7 separate regions of the Homo sapiens genome follow, and regions 1, 2, 3, 4, 5 and 6 are each linked to region 7. The links come from fine-mapping of genetic effects on gene expression. A gene starts in region 7. Each other region holds a variant in brackets. All regions are shown on one strand. Distances are between the middles of the regions. Region 1 overlaps UBE3B (ubiquitin protein ligase E3B). Region 2 overlaps MVK (mevalonate kinase). Region 3 overlaps KCTD10 (potassium channel tetramerization domain containing 10). Region 4 overlaps MMAB (metabolism of cobalamin associated B). Region 5 overlaps KCTD10 (potassium channel tetramerization domain containing 10). Region 6 has its middle 39 kb from the start of MVK. Region 7 holds the start of KCTD10 (potassium channel tetramerization domain containing 10).

The links. PIP is the estimated chance that this variant, and not a neighbour inherited with it, causes the effect.
Region 1: its variant is fine-mapped to the expression of KCTD10 in subcutaneous fat (TwinsUK, PIP 0.95).
Region 2: its variant is fine-mapped to the expression of KCTD10 in whole blood (INTERVAL, PIP above 0.99).
Region 3: its variant is fine-mapped to the expression of KCTD10 in whole blood (TOPMed, PIP above 0.99). The same link has a PIP of 0.9 or more in blood mononuclear cells.
Region 4: its variant is fine-mapped to the expression of KCTD10 in lung (TOPMed, PIP above 0.99).
Region 5: its variant is fine-mapped to the expression of KCTD10 in whole blood (INTERVAL, PIP 0.94).
Region 6: its variant is fine-mapped to the expression of KCTD10 in NK cells (Gilchrist 2021, PIP 0.95).

Annotation. Positions count from the first base shown.
Region 1 is chr12:109,518,744-109,522,811 of GRCh38, reverse strand. It overlaps UBE3B (ubiquitin protein ligase E3B), which reads right to left. Exons shown (of 28, transcript NM_130466.4): 20 at 1,488-1,664; 21 at 1,261-1,371. Among named protein-coding and RNA genes, the nearest start is that of UBE3B, 43 kb to the right of the region's middle. The variant AT/T (reference allele first, on the strand shown) is at 2,068.
Region 2 is chr12:109,587,027-109,591,066 of GRCh38, reverse strand. MVK (mevalonate kinase) reads right to left here. Exons shown (of 11, transcript NM_000431.4): 8 at 206-296. Among named protein-coding and RNA genes, the nearest start is that of MVK, 15 kb to the right of the region's middle. The variant G/A (reference allele first, on the strand shown) is at 2,050.
Region 3 is chr12:109,448,984-109,453,046 of GRCh38, reverse strand. KCTD10 (potassium channel tetramerization domain containing 10) reads left to right here. Exons shown (of 7, transcript NM_031954.5): 7 at 1,234-4,063. The coding sequence ends at 1,452. Among named protein-coding and RNA genes, the nearest start is that of KCTD10, 26 kb to the left of the region's middle. The variant G/A (reference allele first, on the strand shown) is at 1,739.
Region 4 is chr12:109,563,178-109,567,245 of GRCh38, reverse strand. It overlaps MMAB (metabolism of cobalamin associated B), which reads left to right. Exons shown (of 9, transcript NM_052845.4): 4 at 2,070-2,127. Among named protein-coding and RNA genes, the nearest start is that of MMAB, 8.3 kb to the left of the region's middle. RefSeq lists an enhancer at 3,413-3,913. The variant G/A (reference allele first, on the strand shown) is at 2,274.
Region 5 is chr12:109,454,914-109,458,981 of GRCh38, reverse strand. It overlaps KCTD10 (potassium channel tetramerization domain containing 10), which reads left to right. Exons shown (of 7, transcript NM_031954.5): 4 at 904-990; 5 at 1,300-1,352; 6 at 2,669-2,864. Among named protein-coding and RNA genes, the nearest start is that of KCTD10, 20 kb to the left of the region's middle. RefSeq lists an enhancer at 1-456. The variant T/C (reference allele first, on the strand shown) is at 1,985.
Region 6 is chr12:109,610,411-109,614,478 of GRCh38, reverse strand. No RefSeq gene overlaps it. Among named protein-coding and RNA genes, the nearest start is that of MVK, 39 kb to the right of the region's middle. RefSeq lists an enhancer at 2,754-3,254. The variant T/A (reference allele first, on the strand shown) is at 2,283.
Region 7 is chr12:109,475,612-109,479,679 of GRCh38, reverse strand. KCTD10 (potassium channel tetramerization domain containing 10) reads left to right here and starts at 2,380. Exons shown (of 7, transcript NM_031954.5): 1 at 2,380-2,420. The coding sequence starts at 2,418. UBE3B (ubiquitin protein ligase E3B) reads right to left here and starts at 2,046. Exons shown (of 28, transcript NM_130466.4): 1 at 1,571-2,046. RefSeq lists enhancers at 2,134-2,223, 2,732-3,467.

The sequences.
Region 1 (4,068 bases), 43 kb before region 7:
CCCAGGACCCAAATCACTGGAGGGCACAAGGAAGACTGGATGGTGTTTGGGCAGGGGCTCAGATGGGCCACCTGATTCCATCATGGCCAGGGACTGAGGCCGGTGCACATAGACTGTTTCCAGACAGAGAGAACAATGGATTATTCGAGAGTGAAAGGAGTTTGGCCCTGAGACCTCCCTCTCAGCTTGGCCCAGCTGCTGGCTCTTTCTGTTTGGAAAGCATCTGGCTTCTCCAGGTTCCTGGGGTATGCGAGGAGTGCTGCCCAGGTGGCTCGCTTCCTCCGTGCTTGGGCCAGAAGCTCAGCAGAGCCTGAGACCCAGGCAGGGTCCCTGCAGCTCTGGAGCCCACTGCGAAGGCCACACAGACTGGCTGGGCTTGTGCTGCAGCTTTCCTTCCTCCTGGGAAACAGGACTCTCCCAAGGAACAGGCGGTGACTTCCCACTGAAGGTGGTCCCACCTTGGCTTTCAATGGACGGGGTTTCAATGGACAGGAGCTGTGTGGGCCACATCACCCTGACCCCATCAGGCCACAGAGTGGAAACCCAGACTCACTTCCTCTTAGTAAGGTGAGGATGACTGCTCCGATCCACCTGGTGTGAGCAGCTGGCTGGGCACCGTAGAAGGCCCTCCTCACTTACCATTAACGGCAACCCAGGAATGTGGCTTTTCTTATCTCCACTTTACTGATGCGAGAACACGGCTTAAAAACTAAAGAAACTTGAAGGCACATGGTCACACGGCTGACTAGGAACAGCTGGTCCTGTCCTGTTGCCATGGCTGGGAAGCACTCACTCAAACAACACAAGATTTTAAAACTATCAAACTCCACAAAATGCTGCCCTCCTACAACGGGGACCCAGCCTCCGTGTGGCCATCTGGCTCTGCACACCACTCCTCATGCCTCAGGAAAGAAGAGGGCTGGCCTTAGGACTTGGGCCGGCCTGGGTTCAAATTCCACCTCTACCACTTAACTAGCAACGAAACTCTGGACAGGTGACTCCTCAAAGCTTCAGGTCTCCCATCCTTAAATAGCCAGGACAGTGGCAGCCCCGTCACAGGGCTGTCGATGGGATGAGATGAGATGCCACAGGCAAAGTACCTAGCACTGGTGTACAACAAACCTTGGTTCCTGCCCCTGTCCTCGCTTGTATCCTAGTGACAGTTTACATGGCCAAGCCTGATCACATATGTGTATGTGAAGAAGCCCATGGTACCGTTAACATTTTATTTTACATTTCTCTGTTTCTTAACGTTCCTACCTCATACACAGCCTTCCCCAGCATCTTCCCCACAAACTCGAAGAGCTGCAGGTAATTCTCATGGATGTAGGATGTGGGTGAGGGGTACAGCCTCTCATCCCCACTGGTTGTCTGCAAGGCAAAAAGACGGGGAGAGGCAGAGGTCAAGTGCCTTGCAAGGAGCAAGCCCAGCTCTTCACTTCTTGAATCTGGCTGCTGTCAGCCCTGCTGTTGCTCCCCTTAAATACCTTGAACAGATTGAGTGCTGGGTCAAAAACTCTCTTGATGATCTCTTCCAAGAACTCCTTAAAAACACCGTCTTGATCAATCCCTGCTTCGTCCACCCCGAGGTCATTGACAAACTTCACACGGATGACCCCCTTCATGGCGTGCTGGGAGAGCTGCCTAAGCTGCTCGTAGCCGTCCTGCCAAGAGCAGAATTACAGCCCATTAGGAAGCCCAAAGCCTTATGCACACAATTCGGGGTTCCCTCTCCTCTGTGCGAAGCTCTCCCAGCATCATTACCAAATGTGCAAATTATGAAACGTGGATGCATGACAGGAGCCGTTCTCACCTGCTTTTGAATGAGTGCTGATTAAAAGCAAAGATTCATTTGGGGATGTGACAGTATCACTCCTTGGCAAGGGGAGACTGACCTCAAGGGGACAGAGCAGTGAGATGGGGAAGTTAGACAAAATGAGTCATGACAAGCTCCTGGCCATCAGACAAAGGATGAAAGAAACCGGGACAAGATACATTTCTCTCTCTCTCAATGCTAAGAGTATCTTTAGCTCATGGTAAAAAAAAGAAAAAAGAAAAAAAAAAAAA[AT/T]CAAACCTACAGAACACTGTAAAATGAAAAGAATTACCCATCACCCCTCATCTCCCGCTGCCTTCCCAATCATGAAGTGCCTGCAAGTCATGCTGAGGAATTTAGGGGACATCCTGAAGGTAATGGGAGCTGCAGAAGGTTTTAGGCAAAGAGTAACAGGGCTGACTTTCTGTCAGATCTTTCTATTGGCAGCAGAGCAGGTGGATGGCAGGGATCAACGCAGGGAGCAGAGACCGAGATGTGGGGGTGGTGCTGGGCCTGGACTTCTGGCTGGTGGTCAGCTCTGTTAGGACACAGCCATTCAGCACATCTACTCCATCCAGACCTCAACATGCACAGCCCCAGAACCACAACTTTGGAGTTCTCCTACTAAATCATCTGTTTAGTTTGTCTCTTGATTCTAATCTGTTGAGGCCTTCCTGGCTTCTGGTTCCATCATCTAATGCATTCCTAGTACTTGGGGTGCTGAGGTTTTTATTTCAGAGCAGTGACTATAAAAACAGTGCTGAACAGCACAGGGCCCAGGGAAGAGTCTGTTGGCCCGACTTGAGAGGCCCAATCACCAGGTGAAACTGATGTCTTCAGACACTGTGATGGAACAAGTGACCAATCAACCCTGCTGTCCTATGAAGGCCATGCCACATTTCTCCCTTTCAGCTACAACTGTAACACTGTCACATGCTTCGCAGGTTAGACAGGCTGTCTCCACAGCATCCACTCGGCTGCCGTCTGGTCCCCTCATCACAAAGCAAACGAGCAGTATGCCAGTGTGGCGAGACCTGTTTTGGGGAACCCTTGCTGCCTTCCTGCCATGTTCACCCAGTGATCCCCAAAGGACTATCCTATGGTGCCCCGATTCAGGGGTTAGGCTTCAAAGTTAGTGGGCAAGGGAAAATTACCTCTCAAGACCCCTAAGTCACATGTGGGAACAGGAGCACAGTTTTGTGGAGGCAAACCTGAGAAGGACTTTTTATGTACATAAAGTTTGAGAATCATTAAGTTAGATGACAAAAGGGAGAAACAGGAAGTCAACAGGCAGCTGTAACAGCATTTAAACCATTCTGCCTAAATTTAAGATAATTATCTTGGCACTGAGATGAGAACGGATGGAGAATTCCATCAAGTTCCTGTCTGCCTGCAGGAGTTCCTCCAACCTGCTTTAAAATTATGCCTCCCCAGCCTTCACACGCATTAGTAGATGCGTTTGTGGTTATGTGGATGAAATGGGATGGTACATGTGAAAGCAAGTGGCACATGGCCTAGCTCAAGGAGCGTTTACTGGATTCAAATCTCAGTCTTGCTTGATCAGCTCCACACCAGCCTCTTTGTTTAAACGTTTAGAGGGGACTGCCTCTTGTGATACATTTCCTGCCTTCTGGGAACTGGCGTGGATATGCGAGGATTATATCCATGCCTCTTGGGAGGTGAATGTGAGTCAGCGTTCCTCTTCTTCACTGCATCTCAACATGCACACACAGGGAATACTGAGCTAGAAAAGGGATGCCTGGCTTCCAGGCCCAGCTCTATCACTGATATCCAAGTGACCTTGACTGAAGTTCTCTGGCCTCAGTTCTGCCTTTGACAGAGACAGGGGAAAGGACTGGGTAAGAGTATGTTTGAGGATCCTTCCGGTTCTGAATACTAGAGTTCCAGCCCAAACTCACCCTCTGGGAAGAAGAGCCTTCCTACAGGACTTTAATATCTGGAAGCCTAATAGAGAAGCATAGCCCTCAATACTAACCATAAAAAAGGAAACAATGCCCAGGAGAGCATGAGTCTGAGATCAGCTTACTGACGCCCCCTTGTGTCCAAATCCAGCAAAGGCCCCTGGGCTCTCATATTCTAATAACCAAGCCACCAGATTACGACAACTGGGATAACAATGAACAACCCTCTCCCCTTCTCCAGTGGAAAGTAAAGAGGAAAAGGGACTTTGCCTAAAGCCTAAGACAGACATCTCTTTTGCCATCCCTGAGGGATATGCTTTAAAAAGTAGGGCC
Region 2 (4,040 bases), 110 kb before region 7:
GTCTAACGAGCCCGACCACTGTCATTTTCCTGGCCAGGCTACGGGCACGGACGGTACCTTCTTTTCTGCCAAAACCACCTCCCTAAGGGCCCCCACCACCCACCACACCCCCTATAACCCATCAGCCAGAGGGAGACCTCGAAAATCCAGATGTAATTGTGTCCTGGCCTTCCTGAAACCTGCCCAAGAAGGGAACAAGAGTCACCTTGAGCAGCCTGTTTCTGACGCCAGCCACAAGGGCCCTGGTATTGCGAGGGACTTTGGTGTTGGTCAGCAGGATCTGGAGAGCTGGCGACCTGCAGGGTGAAGAGGAGGCAGGTCCACACTGAACTCAAGATGGAGGAGCTGGGACAGGACTGGGAGCAGTCCGGGAAGCCGCCCACCCTGATACGGAGGAAGAAGGGAGGCACAAGAGGTGACACTGGATTGGGGGAGCATGGGGCTTCTGCTGCTGGCCACAGCTGCGCCTCCATCCCAGGCACTGGTTGGGTGGCCATTCTCCCTTGGCTTTTCACTCATTTATTCATTCAACTTCAACTGGGACCTACAACATGCTAGGCACAGCGTGGCCTTGGGGCCGGGGCCAGAGAGGGGATAGGGGAGAAGGGCCGAGAAGGTTTTTCTGGCATGACGTGGACACTGAGAACTGAGGAAGGGTAAGAAGCCACCAAGCAAAGCTAGAAGGGTGAGGATTTCTGGCAGTTGGAGCAGCCTGTGTGAGCCTGGAGGTGGCGGAACCCGGCACAGTCATCCAGTGAGAAATTCAAAGTGGCTATAGCAGAGTACAAGGAGGGGGCGAAGGTTCACTTGTGTGGGTCACCCCCACGAAGCTGGAGTTTTAGAAAGACCAAGCAACAGGCCCTGAAATGGATCACACAGAGGGAAGATGCCCAGGCTAGCTGGTGCGGGCAGTGCCACGCACGGGCTCGTAAATGCAGGGAGGGCAGGGTTGCAGAGGAGGATGGTCCCCAGCACGCTGAGCCCATTCTTGCCCTACCTCAATGGTGCCCGGACGAGCAGCCCTGGTCTAAAACCAGATGTAGAGTCAGTCATCCCCTTGGCTGCCCTCTGGCACATAGACGTGTCCCAGGCAGCCACGTTGAGCTGACTCTCTAGCATGACCCCGTGGTCCTCACCTGCCCCAGAGGAGCTGCATAAATCCCTCCTAAAGCCACAATCCCAACTGTCCTTGTAGTGAGCCGTCTTCGAGGGCTCAAGCTGACATTTCTTGCCATCCAACCTGCCTTTCAGAGGGCTGCAGGCTGGGATGGAAGGTGGGGGATTTGGATGAGCTCTGGCCCGAGACAGCTGGAGACGGGCAGAGCCCTTGATACCTTTATTCGCTGTCTTCACAGTTCAAGATTGTAAAATCCAATAGGGCTGGAAAGGGCTGCCAGAAACCTGCTTTATCTCACTGCCCATAAGCCCATGAAATTAATATCGATTCTCAGCCTTGGAGGCTGGCTTTTTTTTTTTTTTAACTTTACAAAAGATGAACATTCTATTTGGCTTTTCTCTTCCCTTCTAAGACAAGCCATTCCTCAAAAGGGCAGCGTTCTGGGAGGCCGCATCTTGATCCACTTCACAAACAATGCATTTTTTCTTTACAGAGAGGCACCACGCATGGTTGGTGGGGGGAAGCTCCTTAAGCCATCCATGGGATTAACGTGGAGTCTGGCCCCCAGCTTCTCTGTGAAGCCGCCATCTGCTCCCGTGGCACCCCACAGCAGGCAGCAAAGGTTGGTTTGCTCCATGCTCCCATCTAGCCAGGCGGGAGGAGTTTGGGTGTTGCATCTTCATCTTTCTTAGACAAGTCCTCTGCAGACAGGCCTGTCACCAGCCCCACCAGATCCAGGGCTCATACCCATCCAGCGGCCACCACGCAGGGGGTAAGCCTGGTAAGCGCTCCTGTGATCCGGGCTTGGCCACTGCCCCAGCCTCTTCTTCTCTCCTCGCTCCCCAGGCTGCTCACTCCACTCAGCCACTCTGACCTCCCAGCTACTGTGTCACACGGCAGGCAGCGTGCTCGTCTCAGGACCTTTGCACCGC[G/A]CTTCCTCTGCCAGGGACCAGCCCCGCCCCATAGCGGCGTGACTTATTCAGGTTTCTGCTCAATGTTCCTTCACCAGCAGCCCCCGAACCCCCATCCAATCGGACCCCTCCTTCTCTTTGTAGCCTCTGACCCTGCCTTGTTTCCTAAAGGTGCTTAAGACTGCCTGATATGCTCTCACAGACAACTGATTTTTTCTCCTCTCCCAACAAAGTATGAGTTCCACGGAGGCGGGGCTTTGTTTTGTTCCCTGCGGAGGCCCCAGTACTCAGCACGCAGTAGGTGCTTAATGATACTTGTGGAAAGGATGAATGAACTCGGCCAGCAAACAGGTAAGCACTTCAGAGCCACCGCTTCTGATTGTATGTTCAAGATCCCCCTAAGTAAACAAGGAGCTGGAGGTCTGGGAGAAGTGACTCACCTGAGGGCACCAGCTGGCAAGTGGGAGAGCTGGACTCAAACCTAGGCCTGTGGACCCAGCGCCTCCGCCCAGCACACCAGCAACGCCTGGCCATTCCCCTGGCCGTTCCCCTGCCCGCCCCCCTTGGAAACCTCCTCATTCATCTCCTGATGCCCCCAGTAGACCGTACACTCGGTGCCCAGCCCACGTCTTCATCAGTTTTCTAGCTCCAGGGCCTAGTCCAGTGCTTAGGCCACAAGTGGCTCTCAGGAGACACTGAAGGAATGAAATGCCACCACTTCCATGAATGATTCCCCAGGCTCGCAGCCAGATCTAAGACGCCTGTCACTGTCACCCACAGCAGCTTCACAACCCTTCAGGTGTCTTCTCTCTGACGATTCCAGTGACCGCCTTCCCCATCAGACCGTGGGCTCCTGAAGACAGGCCGGGGCCCGGGCATTTGAGACTCCCCCACATGATCCAGCTCTGGTTCCACATGGATCCGGGGCGGTGGCAGACCAGCTTCACCTCGGCACCCGAGGCTCTCCTGACGACTGCTGGAGCAACCCGAGGAAGCTGTTCCACGCTCCTACTGGCTTCTGCGGAGTGCAAAGGTCGGCGGCAAGGGTGATTCTGCCTCCCAAGGGACACTAAGCAATGTCTGGAGATGTTTTTGATTGCCACGCTGAGGGTGCTACTGGCATCTAGTGGGTAGGGGCTGGGGATGGCTACAATGCACAGGGCAGCCCCACCACAAAGAATAACCCAGCCCCAAATCTCAATAGTGCCAATGCTGACAACTCTGACGTACAGCCTTGGAAAGGGAGGCATGACTGAGCTGGGACAGAAAGATCCCAGAGAACTAGCCGGGGGCCCAGGTGTGGCGCTGTGGCAGGCCAGGTTACTGAGCCACTAATGGAGTGGCCCAGCTGGTGGGGGCTGCAGGCCAGGACCTGCCACTCATCCATGAAGACCGCCCTGAGTAAAGAGGAGAGAGCCCCAGGACCCTTACTGATGCGAAAAGGCCCATGGAGGTGGCAAAGTGCCCTGGGACAAACACCACCCCACAACTTGATCAAGGGCTTAGGGAACAGTCAAAAAGGCACCTGGCTCCCCTCTGCCATGCGTTTCATTCCAGGCACCCAACAATTCTGCCGTGGGTGCAAACAGAACAGAGGATGCTGAAATCGCAAACAGAACAGAGAATGCTGAAATCGCACATGCACGTTTGTGATTCCAATGATTCCAGCGGGAGGGACACAGAAACATAAAACAGGCTGAGAGTCTCCAAATGTCACTTCTGCTCCAAGCCCCTCCCAAGCCTCCCTCCCGCTTCCATCCTGCCTCTGCCCTGTGTGCCTCCATCATGGTGACTCTCACATTGTCCTGTGGCGGCTTTTGTGTGTGTCTGGCCCCACCCCCACAAGCAGACTGAGAGTCCTTGGAAACTGTACCCAAGCTTCATCTCTCCATTCCTACGCCCCAGTGCAGCATCATCGGGAACACAGGAAGTAATGGATTCTTGTTTACTAAGCAAATACAGGAATGAATGAATGAGCAGCTGAGAGTCTACGGGCACAGCCATGCATGACT
Region 3 (4,063 bases), 27 kb after region 7:
GACTCCCGTCCTGGCTCTGCCCCTAACCAGCTTCACAAACACAAGAACACGCCACTCCTGAACCTGGTCTGTGAATCAAGAAACAGTTGGGATCAGACCATGTGGTCTCTAAATCCCCTTGCTCCTTATTAAGCTCTAAAAATGAGAAGTCTTAAAATTTTAAAGCTTAATTAGCCAGATCCCATATCTTTTAAAAAAAAAGGAAAGAAAACCAGGATTTCCTCCCAGCCTCTCTGCCTGTTAGACTCTGTTGGCCTCCCTGGCCACTAGAGACCTTCTGGAGGTCTTCTGTCCTGGTGCCATTTCAGGGTTTCAGGCTGCATCAGTGCTGGCAGCAGCAAACAGTAAACTCACTGTTGGGCATTACTCCAAATTCTGTTGTTTCCCCCATCTGCCTGCCATGATTTACTTCTGAGTCCACAGTTAGCTGCTGTGTGCATCCCATTCTGGCTTTGTAGTGTCAGTGAGGAAGACGGGGTAGAGTGTGCCTGCTCCATTTTTCCCAGAACCTCCGAATTCCACCCTGAAAGTGGAGTCTAGTCTGATCAAATGTGTGGGACCTGCTTATGTGGCCCTCTTCCTGTTCATCACACCTTAACCCTGAAGGGCAATGAGCAAACACAATGATTTGCCAAACAGCAGAAGGGCTCATGCCCATTTCGTGGGAGTCCCCAGCTGGACCCTGTACAAAAAACTGCTTTAGAGACTGCTTTAAGGTGTGGAAGGACTTCTGTGCAAGGTTGCAGCTCTGTTAGGAGAAGCATATTAGCACTGACCTAAATGGCCATCCAAGTATGGTTAATTGCATTGTCGTATTTATAATTCCTTGATACAGAATGATCTCTAGGTTAAGTTAGGCACAAGAGGAAGACATGTACAACTCTGTGTGGTGGGCCACCTTGTGTGTTTTTTGAAGTGTGTGAATAAATATGTGTATTACACATATTTACATGCACAGAATCTTTGAGAGGGTAAAATGATGAGAAACTGTACCTTTAAGAAGGGAAACTAGGGGCAGGGAGACCTGTTTCTCTGCATCCCCTTGATTTTCTGTGCATTTAGCACCACATGTAAGTGTTGCCATTGAAAATATCAGTTTATTTAAAAATAATACTGGTGGCCTTCAGCAGAATCCCAGGGGCCTGATTTAGCCTGGCGGCCCTGCTTAAAGTCCAGGTGTTGGCAGAGGGGGTGGGCCATAACTTACCTGCCCTGTATACTGTGGGAACACAGGTGGAGTTTCCCGAAGCCCGGATTTATGAGGAGACCCTGAACATTTTGCTGTATGAGGCCCAGGATGGCCGGGGACCTGACAATGCGCTCCTGGAGGCCACAGGCGGGGCGGCGGGGCGCTCCCACCACCTGGACGAGGACGAGGAGCGGGAGCGGATCGAGCGCGTGCGGAGGATCCACATCAAGCGCCCTGATGACCGGGCCCACCTCCACCAGTGAGCAGGCAAGAGACCGAGCCGCCCTCCTCTCACCGCCCCCACTCCCTGCCGTGCTACACCCAGATCCTGTGCAGGCTGCCGGGCCCCTTCTGCTTCCCTTGGAGCCTGGAGATACTTTTGTAACAAGCCAGATGATTATTTTGGTATTGCTTGACAAGGCAAATTGATTGTCTTGACCCAGGCGTATGACCCCTGTCGTTGAACAAGCTGTGTCTAAGATCTCTACTTTTCATGAGAATCTGAGACTCTTTGGAGCCAGGCTTTCTCGGTTCTCAGAGGAAAAGTAT[G/A]AATGAGTGTGAAGTGTATGTGAGAACTTTTGTTTGCAATATTTATTTTTGTGGGTGTCGACTTCCTATGTGGGCTTTTTGGGTGACACTCCCTTAAGGGTTCAGTTTGACAATTCTGAGAGTTGTCCTGCAGTTGGAGGCCACCAGAGGTATCTGAGCTCCCTGCTTCCTATTTCATAATCCTCCAGCCCCAGCAGGTCCACTCCTGGTTCCTGTGTGTTTGGCCCGGGCACAATCCCCACTGCTTTGCTAGACGTGCTTTCTGCCATGTGGCTTTGGGCCTAGAGCTTGTTGATAATTGCAGCTTGTGGCAGTGGAAATATGGCTGAATGAGCGTCTAAATCGTTGAGACCAGTGCAACTTTGGGTGCAAGGCTTTGTTTAGGGATCAAGCCTTTTGCCACCTTGGGCTGGTCTTTGGCCTGGTGCTCACTGGGACCCCATATGTCTGCGTAGGAGCAGAACTTTCCATGGCAGTAAGTGTCCAGCTCTGTTTCTGGTTCTTTCCCCAACTCCAGCCCCGTCCAGTTGTTCTCCTGATTGACCCGACTCCACTCCAGGAAGGCCATCTGACCCTGTGACAGGCATAGCTCATAAACTACCCCTCCCTGGGATCCCGCTCCTCTTCAGCCTCCTTCCCCATGAAGCTGGGCTAACTTTCTAAGTCATTTTGCTTAGAAATTCAGTGTGGCCCATACCCTTTGTCCTCCCAGCCTGGCATCCAGGCAGGGACACCCTCACACCACCAGCCCCAGGGAGCTTCCCTGCTATAAACACAGACCCCCTTGTCTTTGCCTCTGATTTTTACACAGTGTAGAGTGGCCAGCAGTGAACAGGTTGAGGATGTGCGGGTAGATAGATAACTTTGGGTCTGGTTTGTGTCTGTGTTCATGTTTGTTTAAGGGATATGTGTGACTGTGGGTGGGGACGTGTGCTTGTGGGGCACAGGTGGCGGCCCCTGCTGGAGCCCGGCTGGGCGCAGCGCCTATGTAGGACGGGTGTTCTCAGTGACCTACCTCCCAGGCTCCTCTGCACCTGCAAAGGAACAGGAGTGAGTCGTGACTGACAGGGGTGGTTGAGACTAGACTAGGTAGAGTAGTTACCAGGAGATGTGAATGTGCGTCAGGTGATGGATGGGTTTGTCAAGGGAATCGTTACCGTTTTATACCAAAGGTATTAACATGGGCAGCCTTTGACACATGTATTCCAAAAACGAGTTTATATTTTCAAACGGTTTTTACAGCTTAGACTTTGTACTTACTGCCCTGCCTGTGACAGTTGTATGCCTTCATTTTGTATCCAACAGCAAAGTCTACAATAAAACTTTAAAACAATCATGACTGAATGTCAAAATCGTGTATTGGGCAGATGCTTTTTAAACTGTCGTGTGAGAAACTTTTATATTAGGCCATTTGGATTTTATTAAGTGCTAAGGAAAGAGGGCTTACAAAATGTTTCGTAAATATTTTATACTGTTTAAGTGTTAAACACCAACCCTGTCTTTCTTTTGGGTTGAGCTTTTTTAGAAAGTCGAAGTGAATGTTGGCCAGGAAAATGGAAAAGCCATTGTATAAATTTTTTTTTGAGGCGGAGTCTTGCTCTATTGGCCAGGCTGGAGTGTAGTGGCACCATCTCCACTTACCACAACTTGTGCCTCCTGGGTTCAAGCGATTCTGCTGCCTCAGCCTCCCGAGTAGCTGGGATTGCAGGTACCCATCAGCCCATGCCCAGCTAATTTTGTATTTTTAGTAGAGATGGGGTTTCACCATGTTGGCCAGGCTGGTCTTGAACTCCTGACCCTGTGATCCGACCACCTTGGCCTCCCAAAGTGCTGGGATTACAGGTGTGAGTCACCACACCTGGCTGCATAGTGTTTTAAATGTTTGTGTGAAGAATGAGTTTGTGGAACAATTTGATTTGCTGTGGCCTCTATGCCTAATGAGCTAGTGTTTCTGGCAGCTCTCTCTACCCAACTTTGCACTTGTAGTTTTGAGTCTTTGTCTCTCTGGAATATGAACAGGTTTATAAAACATTCCATGGTGAACAATTCTGTCGGCTGCATTATAGCCATGAGTGAATAGACAGCATTGGCTGGTCCAAGCTCTGTTATTGAGTATACAAGGAACTGATTTTTCTTATGTTAGCACTAAGGGCAAAAACCAATATTTATAATGTAAGCACTATCCAGGTAAAACACTGGCCCAAGATTTGGTAAAGAGATTTCATTGCAATGTAATAACTACAGTTTTTTACAAATTGGAACAGCTTTGGTGTGTCGTAATCAAGGGTTTTTTTTGTTTGTTTGTTTCAAATAAGCCATCTGATT
Region 4 (4,068 bases), 88 kb before region 7:
TTCACCCTGAGGACAGTGCCTAGCACAAGTAAAAATAATGTTAGCTATTATCACTCTTCTTTTTTTTTTTTTTCCGAGACGGAGTTTCGCGCTTGTTGCCCAGACTGGAGTGCAATGGTGTGATCTCGGCTCACTGCAACCTCTGCCTCCCGGGTTCAAGCGAGTCTCCTCATTATTACTATTCTTAACACTTACCTGTTCCTGGCTACCATTTCTCCATGGCGGGCCTGACTAGGTGAGATTTTCGGGACAGATAATGGGAGGTACAGATAGTCAGCCAGCCGGGTAGAGAAGGCAAACAAACCCCTTGGTGTGTGTGGGAGGGGGTCCAGAAGAGGGCAGACACAAGACCAAGTGGGCAAAGGGAGAAAAGGCCAGTTCTCGCATCAGCTATTCTAATGAGCTCTAAAACACGAGCCATCGTCTCTCAGTTGAGGAGGAGCGGGAGGTTGGAGAAACCTCAGTTGTGGATTCTTCCTTGGTCAGATATTGACCAAGCATCTGCAGTGCGAGGCGCTGCTCAACAGAGAACCTCAGCCCCGCCTTCCTGAGCTGCAGAGTGCAGGGAGCAGAACCTCAGCCCCACCTTCCTGAGCTGCAGAGTGCAGGGAGCAGGCAGCACTCACTGGGCAGCTACGAGGGTGGGAGCAGGCTTGGGGCAAGTGCCCAGGGTGGGGCCTGCCACTGGCCTGGTCACGGGGCATCCCTCGGCAAGCAGGTACTTCTGCACACCTCCTGTGAGGCAGGCATGGGGCATCCGCTATGATGGAGACAGACTGTGTCCCAGCCTGCACAGCCCTCCCTTTGGTCCAGAGGGGAAGACACACCAGACGGGAATCACATACTGGTGTGTTTAGTTCTAACTGTAAGATGTGCCAGGAAGATGGGCTGGATATTCTCCATTGGCCCTTTCAAATCCCTTCTCTTCACCTTCTCTTTATGCATGGGAGGCTGACCTTATCACCTGGTGGCTGTGCCACCTCGATTCGTTGGTCTTCTGGCATTCAGGTGGGTCCAGCCAGTGGGAGGCACCAGTAGGTGATAGGAGAGTGAGTGCAGAGAGCTCATGAGTGTGTGTGACCCTGTTCCCCAGTGGTGCATGGCTCTGGTGGCAGCTGGGCTCCCTACCTAACTCCCTCCCTGCTGAGTGACTCCAGAATTCAGCTCCCTCCAGGGTGAGTTGTACCTTCCCCGACCCTTGCCCTTCAGGCTCCTGCATTTCCCTGAAACTCTGCCCATACCTCTGTGAATTGTCCCTTCCCAAAGCCCTCCTCCAGGAATCCCTGCAGCGCGCCACTGTCTCCTGCTGGGGCACTGACTGGTGCAGGAGGGAAGTGCAGGGTTCTGAGGGAGGCAGAGCCAGGGTCCTGACCTGTGTCGGGGGGCAGTTTGCTTTCTCTGCCTTATGAGGGAAGTCCTCCCCAGCCTTCAAAGTCTCCCCTCCAGCATCACCTCCTCCAGGAAGCCCTCCCTGCCTCTCTAGCCAAGGTCAGATTAGGCTTCTATTGCTCTTTCCTTCAGAGCACTGATCTCAGTTTGCACCTTCACATTCAGGAGTATGTCTAATCTGATTACCTATCACACTCCTGAATATCACGCTCCTGAACATGAAGGTGTAAGCTTTGCCTGAAGTCCCAGAGACACTCAGCAGCGGTGCAGAATTTGCACCTGGGTCTGTCTGGTTCCCACTCACCTATCACCACAGGGCTGCGGGTCAGAGCTCAGGATCCAGCACTTGAGACTGTCACTGCTCACCCTGTCACCAACTTGCTGGAGAGAGCCTGGGTCAGCTTCTGTTCACCACTGACTCTCCTGGGCCTGGCCAGAGTAGCTGTTCAAAAGGAATTCTTGACTGGAAATAATGAGCATCCGAAAAGGCATTTCAAGAAACAAATACCACCGCCCCCAAATGGAAGGCTATAATGTTCTTATTGTTAGCAAGAAAAATAACATGGCTATTATAGCTAAATTAACTAAATGGCCTGCCACCTGAGAATCTATTGTTTATGGCAAGACAGGGCCTAGGGACATTACATTACAGGCAAATTCTTTTTCCTTTTTCTTCATAGGTTTGCTCTGGAATTAGTCACAGAAAAGGGCCATACATTTGCCGAAGAGCTTCAGAAAGTGAGTAACACCATCTCACCCAAGCTGGGAATCTTCAGCCCCGGTGGCCATCACGGGACTCAGCATCCAGCCACCAGTTACTCTTTGTGTCACCTGGGGCTAGTTACTCTCCCTCTGTGAGCTCCATTTCTTCATCTGTAAAATGC[G/A]GACAGGCCAGGTATGGTGGCTCACACCTGCAATCTCAGCTACTTGGGAGACTGAGGCAGGAAGATCACTTGAGGCCAGGAGCCTAGGTAACATAATAAGACCCTGACTCTACAAAATATTTGAAAATTAGCCAGGCATAGTGGTGAATGCCTGTAGCCTTAGCTACTCAGGAAACTGAGGTAGGAGGATCTCTTGAGCCCAGGAGGTCAAGGCTGCAGTGAGCTGTGATCATGCCACTGCACTCCTGCCTGGGCAAGAGATTGAGACCCTGTCTCAGGCCGAGCACCATGGTTCAATTAAGCCTGTAATCCCAGCACTTTGGGCGGCCAAGGTGGGAGCATCACTTCAAGCCAGGAGTTCAAGACCAGCCTGGGCAACTTAGGGAGACCCTGTCTCTACAAAAAAAAAAAAAAATTAAAAATTAGCCAAGTATGGTGGCATGCACCCATAGTCCCAGCAACTTACAAGGCTGAGGTGGGAGAATCGCTTGAGTCTTACAGGTTGAGGCTGCAGTGAGATGTGATTACACCACTGCACTGTAGCCTGGGCAACAGAGTGGGATCCTGTCTTTAAAAAAAAAAAAAAAAAAAAACCTCTGTCTCCAAAACAAACAACTGGAGACATATAATCTTCCTTCACAGGCGAGTGGGGAGGATTGTACTAAATGAGGGAATTTAAAATGCAACGGTTCTCAACCCAGGGCCATTCTGCCCCTCAGGGCCCGCTGAGCAATATCTGGAGACATTTTTGGTTGCCACATCTGGGTGTTGGGGGTGTTGCTGGCATGTAAATATCCTGCAATGCAGGGGACAGCCCCCGTCAACGAAGAATGACCCGGCCTTGAATGGCAATAGCACCGAGGCTGAGAAAGCCGGTGTGAAGTGCCTCGCTCATGCCCGATGCAGAGGGAACCTGGGAAGCCTAGCTGCAGTGAGCCCTCAGCCCGTGGGACTCATGCGTCACAGTGTCACTGTTCTGTTCCCTAAGAAGGAGGGGGCCTCTGACCCACGCAGAGAACTTCAAGCACGGAGACAGGGTCACCACCCCAGAATGCCCAGGGTGCCGCACTTTCCACCTCCACATGGACCCAGGTCCCCAGAAACCGCTCCCCGCAGGGTCAGCCCTTCCCACTTCCGTTCTGAAGCCCAGGCTGGAGCCTGCTCAGGCCCCTGGGAACAGACGGAGGGTAGTAGGTGGGGCTGCCACAGGCTGTGGCTGCAGGAGGAAGCCTCAGCTGCCAGAACATTCTGTGTGGTGGAGGAAGGCTTTCAACCTCCTGAGGAGCCGCGGTAGCAGCGGTCATTTCTGTCTGCTGTACGCGTTGGGTCGCAGCTGTCACGTCACCTCCTCAAGGGCCTTCCCTGGCCACCTAATCTCCAGCTGGGTTAGGCACTGCTCCTGGATTTCCACATCCTCTAACCACAGGCATCACAAGGGGTGTTAACCTGTTCACCCATCCACCTCCCACCCAGCCTTGGCACTGTGAGGGCGGGGACAGTGTCTGGTTCACCTGGGAGCCCCGCCTGGCCTGGTAGCCGCTCGCAGGGCCTGTGGATGAGGCCGGGCAGCAATGCCACTGCTTTCCTCATATCACCCATTTCACCCTCACAGACACCCGTGAGGTGGAAGTTAATGTCCACAGCTTATAGGGAGCCAAACTGAGCCTCAGAAAGGCTGACTTGCCCAGCCCCCACAGCCAGGCATCAGTAGAGCTGGAATCTGATTCCCAAACTGGTGCCATTTCTCCCCAGCCCTTGGGGTACACGCTGCACGTGGCCAACCAAGTGGGTAGTA
Region 5 (4,068 bases), 21 kb after region 7:
ATGCTTGGCTGTCTGTTGAAGGAATGAGAGACTCTGAAAGCTGTTTGTGCATGGAAGGTCCTTGTTGTCCACTGGGCTGCATTGTGGGTGATAAGGCAGACTTTTTCAGCGGGACCCCCAACTGTCAGAATCTGTAAGCCATTTTGGGGGAAGCAGGTGGTGTTCCTGAAGAGGAATCCTCTACTCTCCTCCTGCCTGACGGGTCTAGGCCTGGCCGGCTGCCTTTGGGGATCTGGAAGGGGAAGGAGCTGGGGTTGCTCATCACTTAGTGTGATGTTCACTTGTCCCCCCGTTTTCAGAATCGCAGCTCAGCCCTGTCCTCTACCGTGCAAACCACTGCAGGAAGATGGCCCTTTCTTCTGCCTGCATGGGGACGGAGATGGATTTGGGGATCTTTCCAGTGCTTCCGCCCACTGGTTTCAGCTTTCCCCCTCTCCTTGGTTAACGCTCACCTGTGACCTTTCTACCCTCAAATTTTTGACTTTTTTTACTGGTCTGCTGACCTCACTTCTCCCATTCTTTTTCCCCTTATGGGTTTATGCTTTTTTTTTTAATTCCTCTGCAGTCATGGTAGTGGGGTTTTAGGAGCTTTTGATTAAAACACGTTTCTGCTGCCACGTCAAGGGTTTATTTTTGAGTGGCTTCCTGGGCTGTGGAAAATGTGTCATCATTGTTAGTACTTACTCAGCATCCTGGCCTATCATGGTCATAGCCAAAGAGCAGACTTACTGGGAAATTCAACTCCCTGTCTTCCCCCATCTAGTTCACTGGTGGTGAGAATCCTTCTCTCTTCCCAGCCATGACTGCCCCATCTCCCCTCGCCAGAGCCTGTCCAGCCGGTCAACTTTAAAAATGCAGTGCTAGGCAGGCCTCCTAGGCTGAAAGCATGTTTTGTTCCAGCAGAACAAAGATACTTATGAGCCTTTCTGCAAGGTCCCTGTGATCACCTCATCCAAGGAAGAACAAAAACTTATAGCGACTTCAAATAAGGTATGTTGGAGGCACCCTTGTGGAATTTCTTTTGCTACCAGAAATGATGGAGGTTCTTCTGAATAACTTTTGAAATAAAAACATGTATAATTGCCTGAGTGAGGCCTGATAATGGGTTCACAGTGGGAAGCTACAGGTCATCTTTTGTGCCCCTGCTATTGGGTCATGTGGTCCCCCTCTCCAGCCAGCAAGCTATGCTTGTCTGCCTCTTCTGATGCAGGGCAGGGCCCCAGCCCTATGGGAAGCTAGTAGTTCATTGCATCTGCCTGCCAAGTAACTCTCTTCTTCTTCTTTTAAAACAACCCACAGCCAGCCGTGAAGTTGCTCTACAACAGAAGTAACAACAAATACTCATATACCAGGTAAGGCGTCAGCCGGGAAAGACAGCTCCATTTACTAGGAAAACCTCCACTCACACCAGCCAGGCCCAGCTCTTCTTCGTACCTTCAGATGAGGATGACCCCTCTGTACCTCTCTGCCTGGATAGATAAGTAGACAGATGGATACAGGGGTATAACTCTGAGCTATAATTCACACATATCATAAAAGTCATCTTTCTAGAGTGTACAGTTATTATTATATTCACAATATGTGGTTTTTATATATTCACAAGTTGTGAGGCCATAACGACTATCTAATTTTAGAACTTTTTCACTGCCTGAAAAGAAACCCTCTATTCGTTAGCAGTCACTCCCCATTTTCCCTCAACCATTGCTTCCCCAACCCCACAGCCCTAGGTAACCACTAATCTGTTTTCTGTCTTGATGAATTTGCCTGTTCTGGACATTTTTATGTGAATGGAATTGCATAATATATGGCCTTTTGTGACCAGATTCCTTCATTCAGCATAATGAGATTACCTAAGAGGTTTTCAAGGTTTATCCATGTTGTAGCATGAATCAATACTTCATTCCTTTTTATGGCAGAATAATATTCCACAGTGTAGACCACATTTTCTTTACCCATTCATCAGTTGATGGACATTTGGGTTGTT[T/C]GCACTTTTTGGCTATTGTGTGTAATGCTGTTATGAACATTCATGCAAAGTCTCTATGTGGACTTACGTTTTCATTTCTCTGGGAACAGAATTGCTGGGTCATGTGGTAATTCTATGTTTAATCATTCGAGGACCTGCCAAACTGTTTTCTAAAGTGGCTGCACCATTTTACATTCCCACCAGCAATATATGCAGGTTTCTAGAATGCCATTTGGCCCTTGAAAACATGTGGCTCTAACTCAGGAACTTGAGGGATGCAGGGAGGATTTAATCAGGTTACTCAAGATCTTTAAAAAGACCTAGGATATAGAGTCTCCCTTGGGCAGTGCCATTCTGCTCCTCTTGGGGCTCGGTGAGGTGCTCTCCTCCACCTGGTGCCTGTGCCCAGAGGCTGTCACTCAAGCACAATGGTTAGGAGCACTCAGGCTTAGGGGCCAGGGCTGTCTTTTGGGGGGCGTGTCTGCCATTTATTAGGTTCAGCCTTGAGCAATTACCTAATTTCTCTGATCCTCACTTTCCTTCTTGAGTGATGGAGATTGGAGTGCCTTTGTCATGGGATTATTGTGAGGTTGAAATGAGGTAGTGGAGAAAGTGGGCTCAGTAGGGCCCTGCGTGTAGAAGGGCCCAGCAAATGATGGCAGTTTTTACCAGCTTGTGGTCACCGTATCAAATGCTCTTTTGCAGCAATTCTGACGACAATATGTTGAAAAACATTGAACTGTTTGATAAGCTGTCTCTGCGCTTTAACGGAAGGGTCCTGTTCATAAAGGATGTTATTGGGGATGAAATCTGCTGCTGGTCCTTTTATGGTCAGGGCCGGAAGATTGCTGAAGTCTGTTGTACCTCCATCGTCTATGCCACTGAGAAGAAACAGACCAAGGTAAGAGCCTCGAGAGGACAGTTTGGAGTGGCTGTTCTGAAACACACACCTATAGAACTTCCTTTCACTTGAGCCCAATACAGAGGGAAATGCTTTTAAAATGCTTTGCTTGCCTTGTGATTGCTCATCCTTAAAATATTTATCTTTTAGGCCCTGCAAGGAGCCAAATGTAGGGTTCATCTGGCATTCCTTTAGCTCCCTACCTTGCTGGCTTCCTTCCAAGCATGCTTGACTCCCTGACTGGGCTGGACTCTGGGGATGTGTTTTTATATCATCCTCTCCAAACCAGTAGGCTTGACCTATCCTTTGACTTCTCCCACCATGCCGTTCCACAAAGCTGGATTGCTCTGCATAGTGCTGCTAGAGATCTGGCCCCCCCTTAATTGAATTTGCCTGCCCTTTTGGGGCTCTGCAATTGGGTTTTCTGTCTTTTTAAACTTTTAATTCACATTATACACTCTGTCATTTCTTTAACGTGTCTAAGGGAATTCTGGCTATCCAGTGACATGCAGCAGGTCTGCTGTGGGCCGACGGTCATGCCTCTTGTCACCCTTGCACAGGAGTCTTAAGAGCCTGAGCCTGTAGGTCACTTACCCAGGTTACTATTGTCCCTGCAGCTTTTGGGGCCACAGTTCTGCATGATTCTGTAGCTGACCTCGAACAAAAAGCAAATGAGAAGAAATCATCACATCACAAAGTAGAAACCAGAGTCTTTTTTTTTTTTAACTTATTATTGAAAATTGAAGCCATACACAGAATTATAGTGTGGTGATTTCCCCTGTGCCATCACGCCACGTCAAGGGCCATCAGCTTGGGCACTCTCACTCAGTCTGTATCTACTCCTCCTCCCCAGCACTCACAGGATGAATTTGACAACATATTTTATTCCTAAGCATTCAAAATCTATCCTAAAAGAATAGATATTGTTCTTAAGGTAGCCAAGAAGTGCTAAACACTGAGGTTCTTTTTGCTTTCAAAGATCCCGGGGGCAGGGGGTGAACCAGAATCATCTGCCTCTCTCTCCACATTGGCAAGACATCATGCCCCTTTTCTCCTGTGAACTGTTTTTTTTTTTTCAGGGCTGTGAATTCTTCCTGTAATTAGACCCCCATTCTGTCATGGTTTGATTTTTTAAAAATATACCTGGGCTGCCTCTGCCCTTGGGTAGTAAGAGGAGAGTCACCATATTGATTAAGCTTTAAAA
Region 6 (4,068 bases), 130 kb before region 7:
TCTCCGGCTGGGTAAACTCAGGGTCCCCAGGAGCCTCTCCAGCCCCCACAGTCATTAATCATAACTGAACTCTCCTGGATGAAGTTTCCCATCCCTTTGGGGTTTCTGTCTCCCAGTATCACTTAATATATACCCTCATCGGGCCATATATACCTGCTCCTAATAAACCTCTATGACTTTAATGAACTAAATAGCAAATTACTTTTTTATTCAAGAATGAAATTTCATCATATTCATAATTCATATTTTATTTCAGACATCTGCTGCTGATTACATTACATTTAACTAAAATTAGATGATGCTCAGAATGCAATTAAGACTCTGCCAAATTCTTCGGCCCACCAATGCCGGCGGAGCGCAGCGGGGGCCGCGAGGAACCTAATATGTAATTAGGAGCTATTTTCTAGCTGTTTTTAAAGTCTGAAAATTAGCTGCCTTTATTAATCACACAGACAAATATAAAGTGGAACCAACGCTCGCTGAAATTTCTAAAAGGGATTTTTTGTTTAATTATACACCGCAGAGCGCTGAGACTCGTTCTGCATGTTGATTTGTTGTGCACTGACATTTTGACAACTGGTTCTCAATTTGTCTGTCGTAGTTAGGCAACAACAAAGCCGACGGTAATACTTTAACTTTCAAAACCTTCAGTGTGCCGGGGAGAGGGAGAATGGCATTCCTCACTGCGGGCCCGCAGCTTGGGCTCTCGAAGGCAGAGACACGGGGAGAAGGGCAGGTGAGGGGCGGAGGGGACTCCCGGGACGACGCCAGCTGGGGAGGTGGCTGACATTCTGGATCGGGAGTTACAGGGCCAAGGAACAAGCCCCTGTTCTGCGGGGTGGCTAAGTGGAAACCCTCCCTAATCTCTGGGCCTCAGTTTCCTCCTCTGCACCAAGAATGGGCTGGAGTCTGAGATCTTCAAGGAGCCTGTAGATGCCAAAACTCTGTCTTCTTTTCTCTGTGTGCTAATGTCTTCTGTGTAGCATCATTTGTCCCCTCGGCCTTAGCAGGGGGATGTGATTTTTTTTAGAGACTGTCTCACTCTGTAACCCAGGCTGGAGTGCAGTGGTGTGATCATAGCTCACTGCAGCCTCAAACACCCGGGCTCAAGCAAGCCTCCCTGCTGAGTAGCACCGGGGCTACAGGTTCGAACTCCCCCGCTCAAGCCAACCTCCCTGCTGAGTAGCTGGGTTACAGGTGAGAGCCACAGCACCCAGTCTCCAGAGGAATCCTTTATTATCCCAATGTGCAGAGGATGCAACTGAGACTCTGAGACTCAGCAACTTGTTAACCAACCAGCAGGTGGCCACACCAGAACTCAAACATGGAGTTCACTGACTCCACAATCTGTGGTTCTAACCACTGTATCCACCTCCCTGGCTCAGGAGCCCTGAGCAAGGGACAGCTCTCTGGGCCTCAGATTCCCTTCTGTGATGCTTGGATGTGGTAGAGTGGCACCCAGCCCTGCTGGGGGCCAGGGACAGAGTACACCAGCAGGATCACAGCATGAAGCAGGATTGAGCCCCACACAGGGACCCCCAGTCTCAGTGGAACTCCTGAGCTCACCCCATTCCCTTGGAGGTTCCTTAGGCCACCCTGTGGGTGAAACTACCCAGTGATGTCCAGAAAGTCCCAGGACAGAGAGTGACTGCCAAGGGGCCCAGATTCTACCCCATGCCCAGACAACAATAACAGATGGCTTTTTGTCCCATGTGCCTAGTACTCTGTTGACACTTTATTACCAGCGGGCACAATGGCTCACACCTGTAATCCTGGCACTTCAGGAGGCCAAGGTGGGAGGACCACTTGAGCCCAGAAGTCCGAGGCCAGCCTGAGCAACAGAGAGATCCCGCCTCTAGGAAAAATTAAAACTTAGCTGAGTGTGGTGGTGTACACCTGTAGTCCCAGCTGCTTGGGAGGCTGAGGTAGGAGAATCAATTGAGCCTGGGAGGTAGAGGCTGCAGTGAGCCGTGATCGCACCACTGAACTCCGGCCTGGGCAACAGAGTGAGACCCTGTCTCAAAAAAAAAAAAAAATAATATCACCTACACTCCTTCCACTAACCCTCCAAAGTGGATTCACAACCAGGCTTGGAGTCTCACAGCCTGGATTCAAACCCAACCCCTGCAATTTGCCTGCTGTGGTAACCTTGGTCGGGCTGCCTCAGTTTCCATATCAAGAAAATGAAGAGCTTGAGCACACCCACCTCTCTCGGTTCTGGGGAGGACTGAACAGGATAATTGGGTGTGTGGCCCAGATCAAGCCCTCAGCTGATGGAAGGT[T/A]CCTGTTACCACCCCATTTGACAGACAGGCACATTGAGGCTCTGCAGGGAGAAGTGCTTGCTCTGAGGTGCCTGCCGCCAGGTGGGTCTGATGCCACAGCCCATGCTCCTACCCCACCACCATAATGCCCCCCTAATTCCCACCAGGGAGGACTGGGGAAGGGCCTGAGGACCCACTGTGCAGTCTGGGCTGCCCCATCTGGCCATTGTGACCATCTCCAGGGGCTCTCAGGGTGTTTTTACCTTCCGTCTCTCACTTCCTTTTTGCTCCCTGGAGAGAGTGCCCAGCAGCTTTCTGCAGGAGCCAAGGCATGGCAGAGCCCACCACGGGGTCTTTTGCCCCTGCTGACTCCAGCCCAGTGGAGCCAGCACCATGACCTGCCCAGGCCTGTTTTTAGGAGCCAGCCCTGCCTCCTCCTCCTGCCCACAGACCCATCTGATGAAAACGCCAACGGAGAAAAGGAGGTTGTTTTGGGTGACAATGAAACTGCCAATAAAATCTCAAACGCAGAGATAGGCAATGACTATTTCACTTATTCTGACAGTTTGAGACTTTGCTGGGGAAGGGAAGTGACAGGCACCTGCCGACATCAACACCACTTCTTTCGGAGAACAGCCCGTGGGAGGGGGCTTCCCGGGAGACCTGCCTTGCCCAGATGCCAAGCGGGCTGTGGCTGCTGCTGTTGGCAGCAGGGGCTGCGGTCACCCACGGGGAGAGACTGGACACTCTGACTCTATCCACAACTCCCCTCTGGCACAGACATATGCCAGGCTCTGGCTGGAGACCACAGAGGCAGAAACAACCAGCAAAACCCCTGCCCTTAGGGTTTGTTTTGTTTTTTTAAGACAAGGTCTGGCTCTGTCATTCAGGCTGGAGTGCAGTGGTGCAATCTCGGCTCGCTGTAACCTCTACCTCCTGGGCTCAAGCCATCCTCCCACCTCAGCCTCTCGAATAGCTGGGACTACAAGCATTCATCACGACACCCAGCTAATTTTTGTATTTTATTGTAGAGATGGGGTTTCGACATGTTGCTCAGGCTGGTCTCGAACTCTTGAGCTCAAGCCATCCTGCCATCCTCCCATCTTGGCCTCCCAAGTAGCTGGAACTATAAGCGCTTACCACAGTGCCTGGCTAATTTTTGTATTTTTTGTATAGATGGGGTTTCACCCTATTGCCTAGGCTGGTCTCAAACTCATGAGCTCAAGCAATCCTCCCACCTCAGCCTCCCAAAGTGCTAGGATTACCCACATGAGCCACCATGCCCAGCCCCTTAGGGGTTATTGGGAGTGGAATCGTGTCCCCCACAAAGAGATTTTGAAGTCCTAACCCCGGATCCCCATGAATGTGACTTTATTTGAAAATGAGGTCTTTGCAGATGTAATCAAGTTAAGATGAGGTCATGAGGGTGGGCTGCTGTCCTTATAAGAGGGAATGCCATGTGAAGCCAGACACACAGGGAGAAGGCCATGTGTCAGCAACAGCCAAGGCTGGAGTGATGCAACCGCAAGCCCAGGACTGCCAGCCACCACCAGAAGCTAGGAAGAGGCAAGGGAGGGTTCTCAGAGGACCCAGTGTCTCAGAGGGTCCCTGGTCCTGTCGACACCTTCATTCTAGACTTCTGGCCTCCTGAACCATGACAGAGTAAATCTCTGTTGTTTTAAGCCACCACATTTATGGTACTTTGTTATGGGAGCCCTAATTAGAACACCGTTATAAAGGGCTTCCATGCCAACTAGGGCATCGGCAAAAGAGGCCCCACCTCCAGCTGGAGACTATCAAAAGAGGG
Region 7 (4,068 bases):
CCTTTCCTATATACCTTCTCCACCTGCACAGTGTATACTATAGTTCGTCAATTAATAAAACACACAATCAAGTGTTTATTAAGTACTTATTTTGCTAAATGCCATGGAGAACCAAAGAAAAGGCTGTGCGCAGCAGAAAAAGTCTTGCATCAGAGAAAGCGGGCCTTGGTTCTTTTTAGTACTCCTTCTATCCGACATTTGGCCAAGTTACTTATCCTCTCTAGGCCTCAGTTTCCTTATGTGTAAATCGAGGGTAATAATAGTGTCTATGTCCTAGGGTTGCTGAAAGGATTAAATGCAACATTTATCCTTCTTGTACCTCAATTTAGTCATCACAACATTGTGATTAGGATTAAATGGGAAAATATTAATATAGGATATCTAAAAGCATGTAGCATGTAAGTGAGCTTTATTGTATTGTCCTTAAGAAGCTTGCAATCTAGTTAGGGAAACAAGAATCATATAGGTAGAAAGATTAGAAAATAAGAGGTTGGTGATAACCAAGATCATTTAAAAAAGTAAATGAGTGCCCATTATGTGTCAAGTCCTTTATAAGTGATCTCATCTAATAAGGAGAGGAGTCCTATGAGAAGATCATTCATGATCTCATCTACTCCAGTCTAGACCATTAGTATGTGGCAGAGTCAAGGCTGTAATAACTAAGAGGCAGGATTCAGACTCTTGTCTTACCTCTATATTTCCAAAGCTGAAGCATCATAAATACCAACTGCTGACTAAGCCAAGAGGATTGTCCCTGTGCAGTAGGAAAAGCTGGGCCACCAGGTTTAATGACCACCACCACTTGTTCTGGGCAGACGGTGTATCAGACACTGCACAGATTATTTAACCAACTTGTCTTTTCAACAGCTCTATCAGTTCTCGATAATCTTTGTTTTTTTGAGACGGAGTCTCACTTTGTTGCCCAGGCTGGAGTGCAGCGGCGCGAACTCTGCTCACTGCAACCTCCGCCTCCCAGGTTCAAGTGATTCTCCTGCTTCAGCCTCCCAAGTCGCTGGGATTAAAGGCGCCCGCCACCACGCCCGGCTAATTTTTGTATTTTTAGTAGAGATGCGGTTTCACCATGTTGGCCACGCTGGTCTTGAACTTCTGACCTCAGGTGATCCGCCCGCCTCGGCCTCCCAAAGTGCTAGGATTACAGGCGTGAGCCACCGTGGCCAGCCTCAATAATCTAATTTTTATTTAAAGAATAGGAAACACGACTTAAAGAGACTATTCATATTAACAGCTACTATTTATTGAAAGCTACAGCCTATCTAAGGTGGATGCTTTTGAATCTGAATCCATGTATATCCAAAACAGTTATTTATCACTAAGTAAAACAAACAAGATCCAGGGCTCCCCCGTTCACAGAATGGCCAAGCAAAGAGAAGTTGAGAGTGCAAGATTGCCTGTGGGGGCTAAGCTGGAGTTAAATTACGATCAAGTTTTTCTTTATTCAGAACTAGGTGTCAGGCACGGTACTAAAACGTATTCACACCCTCTGTGAAACCTGCTAATTACTCCATTTACACAGAAGGAAACTGAGGCTCAGAGAGGTGAGGGAACTCACCCAAGGTCACACAGCGAGCGAACAGTATTCGAACTCCAGTTTAGGTGAGTCCTGGGGCCCAGAGTCTTTCCTCGGCATCAACAACCACAGGAACAAATCACCCAGCATTAGTCCGTTTATAAAGGCCTACCGTCCCCAAAGTGAAAAGAGGTGGAAAGGGCCGCGGAAAGAGCCCCTGGAGCACACACGCCAGATCCCAGCACTTGTTCCTCCGACCTGGCCAGGCAGGGACTGTGCCCTAGAGCCAACTCCCTCAAAGTCCCCAGCCCCACCACTCGGAGGACTGACGACCCAGTTCTCCCGCAGGCCGGACCGCAGGCCCTACCGGCCTACCCGCAGGCCGACCTTTATTCGCCGGAGGTCCCCGCACTTGGGGTCGGGGCCGCAGCTGCCACTGTCTCAGCCCAAAACACCCGAGTTCTGCCAGACCCGGGGCAGCAGCCGACGCACTACCGCCATCTTGCCCCGCGGTGTTCGCTTTCAGAACCCCGCCAGGAAGCAAGCATCCAGTTCCGGAAAATGACAGTTCCGCAGAGCTTCTTCGCCCGGGAAGGAAAACTTCCCCACACCTTGCCTCCCCTCTGGCAGCTGAAATAGCGGAGGTGGGATAAATGCCCTCCCCAGCCGAGAAAAGCTGGAACCCACTCCGGCCGGGGAGGCTGGAAAGAAAACTGGCCCCTAGGCGCACAACGGACGGCTTAAGACGTTGCCCTCTGCGGGGCGGAAGTGGGGTGCGGACAGCGGAAGTTATCGCTCCGGCCCCGCCTCCGCCCCCGGCTGGCGTGAGCTGGGTGTTTCCTGCCTCTCTCAGTCCGGGTTTGGAGACTCCTGCGTCCTCCGACTTTTCATGGTAGGGAGGGCGGTGCCCATGGACTAGGGGTTGAGGGCGGCCGAGGGAGCTGGGCAGCAGCAGAGTATAAGAAGGGACCGAGAGGAGGGGGTGTGATGAGGGGCAGTCACGATAGTGGAGAGGCATTTGGGGGATTGGTTAGGGGAAAGGCCCGGGGTGGGGGAAGGGCTTTGGGTGGAGAATTAGGGGCGGGGGTGGTGGTAGGGAGGCTCCCTGGCGGTTAGGAATCCGGGAAGCACATTTGGGCTTGCGGAGTAGATACGTGTGTGCGTGAGGAAGGGGTGTCTCCAAGTGAGTCCTGAGTGCTGGTTGGAGATGGGAGTTGGTGATTGCGAGGAGAACAAAGAGATATCAATTGAAAACGGACATTTGGGGGTGGAAAATGAGGATTTGGAGGATTATGAAGGAGAATGAATGGGCAGGTTATGAGAAGGTGAGGTAGGATTCCTTGGGGCGGAGCGTTTGGCGTTTTGGAGGTTGTGGCTGGAGTCGCTGAGTTTCCAGGAAGTGGGGAAGGGGCTCCCAGGTGCGTCTGAACACACGGCCCAGTGAGGGAAAGAAATCGAGAGAGCCCAGCAGGCTGATGTGCGTTCAGTGCTTGGAATCCTGGGGAGAGATGCCAGGGGCCTGAGGTTAGGATACCTGCGCCACGGAGTTCAGTGCCTCAGCTGGCGCCTGGGTACCTATCTGTAACTTCCATTGAGGCCAGAGGTGACCACGCCTAAGGAGCGGAGGATGTTTCAAGATCTGTCTCTCAGCTGTGGGGTTTGTCTGCTTGGGATCCTCAAGGGTCTGTTCCCTGAGTAGCTCATTGTCCCTGGGTAGAGATGACCAAAGATTGGCCCAGATCTTCTTTCTACTTGCTTGCTTGTTTGTCACGTCCCTGGAAAGTGCAGTCTTAAGGGAAAATCAGTCCCAGTGACGCTGCTGAAGAAAAGTCAGTTATCCTGTAGCTGACGTTGACTAGTCCGCTCCATTTTGTGCAAAATAAGGACCAGCGGATGGGAAGAAGGCAGCATAAACCAGTGGTTCTCAAACTCTGGTCCCACCAGCAGCAACACCTGGTAACTTATTCAAAATGGCTGAAATTTCAAGCCCTGTCAGAGACTACTGAATCAGACATTCTTGGGGTGGAGCCCATCTATCGGTTTTAACAAGCCCTGCAAGGGATTAGACTAATGATTTCTTGATTTGGACTGTGTAATGAAAGGGGCAAAGGAGTTGGGAGTCAGAGGGCTCTTATAGGTGTGATTCCTAGTTTTCTCCCCAAAAAAGTGGGGTTGATGATAAACATCTTTCTCACTAGAACATTGAGAGAAATAGACCAAGAGTTTGTGTATTAAACACAGGGAGAGAATGTCATTTGATGGAAGTTGCAATTGGCGGTAGCTGTCTTATAAGCAAATTTTGGATGTAAAATGCTGCAATTATGTGACTTAGTTTAGTTGAAATGTAACAGCAGACTTTTCTGAGTTGTAGAAATGCCCTCAGTTTGGGAAGGTTTTATACAAGCCTCAATACAGTGTTTCTTAAACTTCTTTGCTGTAGGAATCCCCTGAGGTGATGCTTTGCCTCACATCCCTGGCAACTCTTAGATAAAGCTGGTTAAATACCTTAGCTAGGTGGCAGTAAGCCCTGGTCCCACATC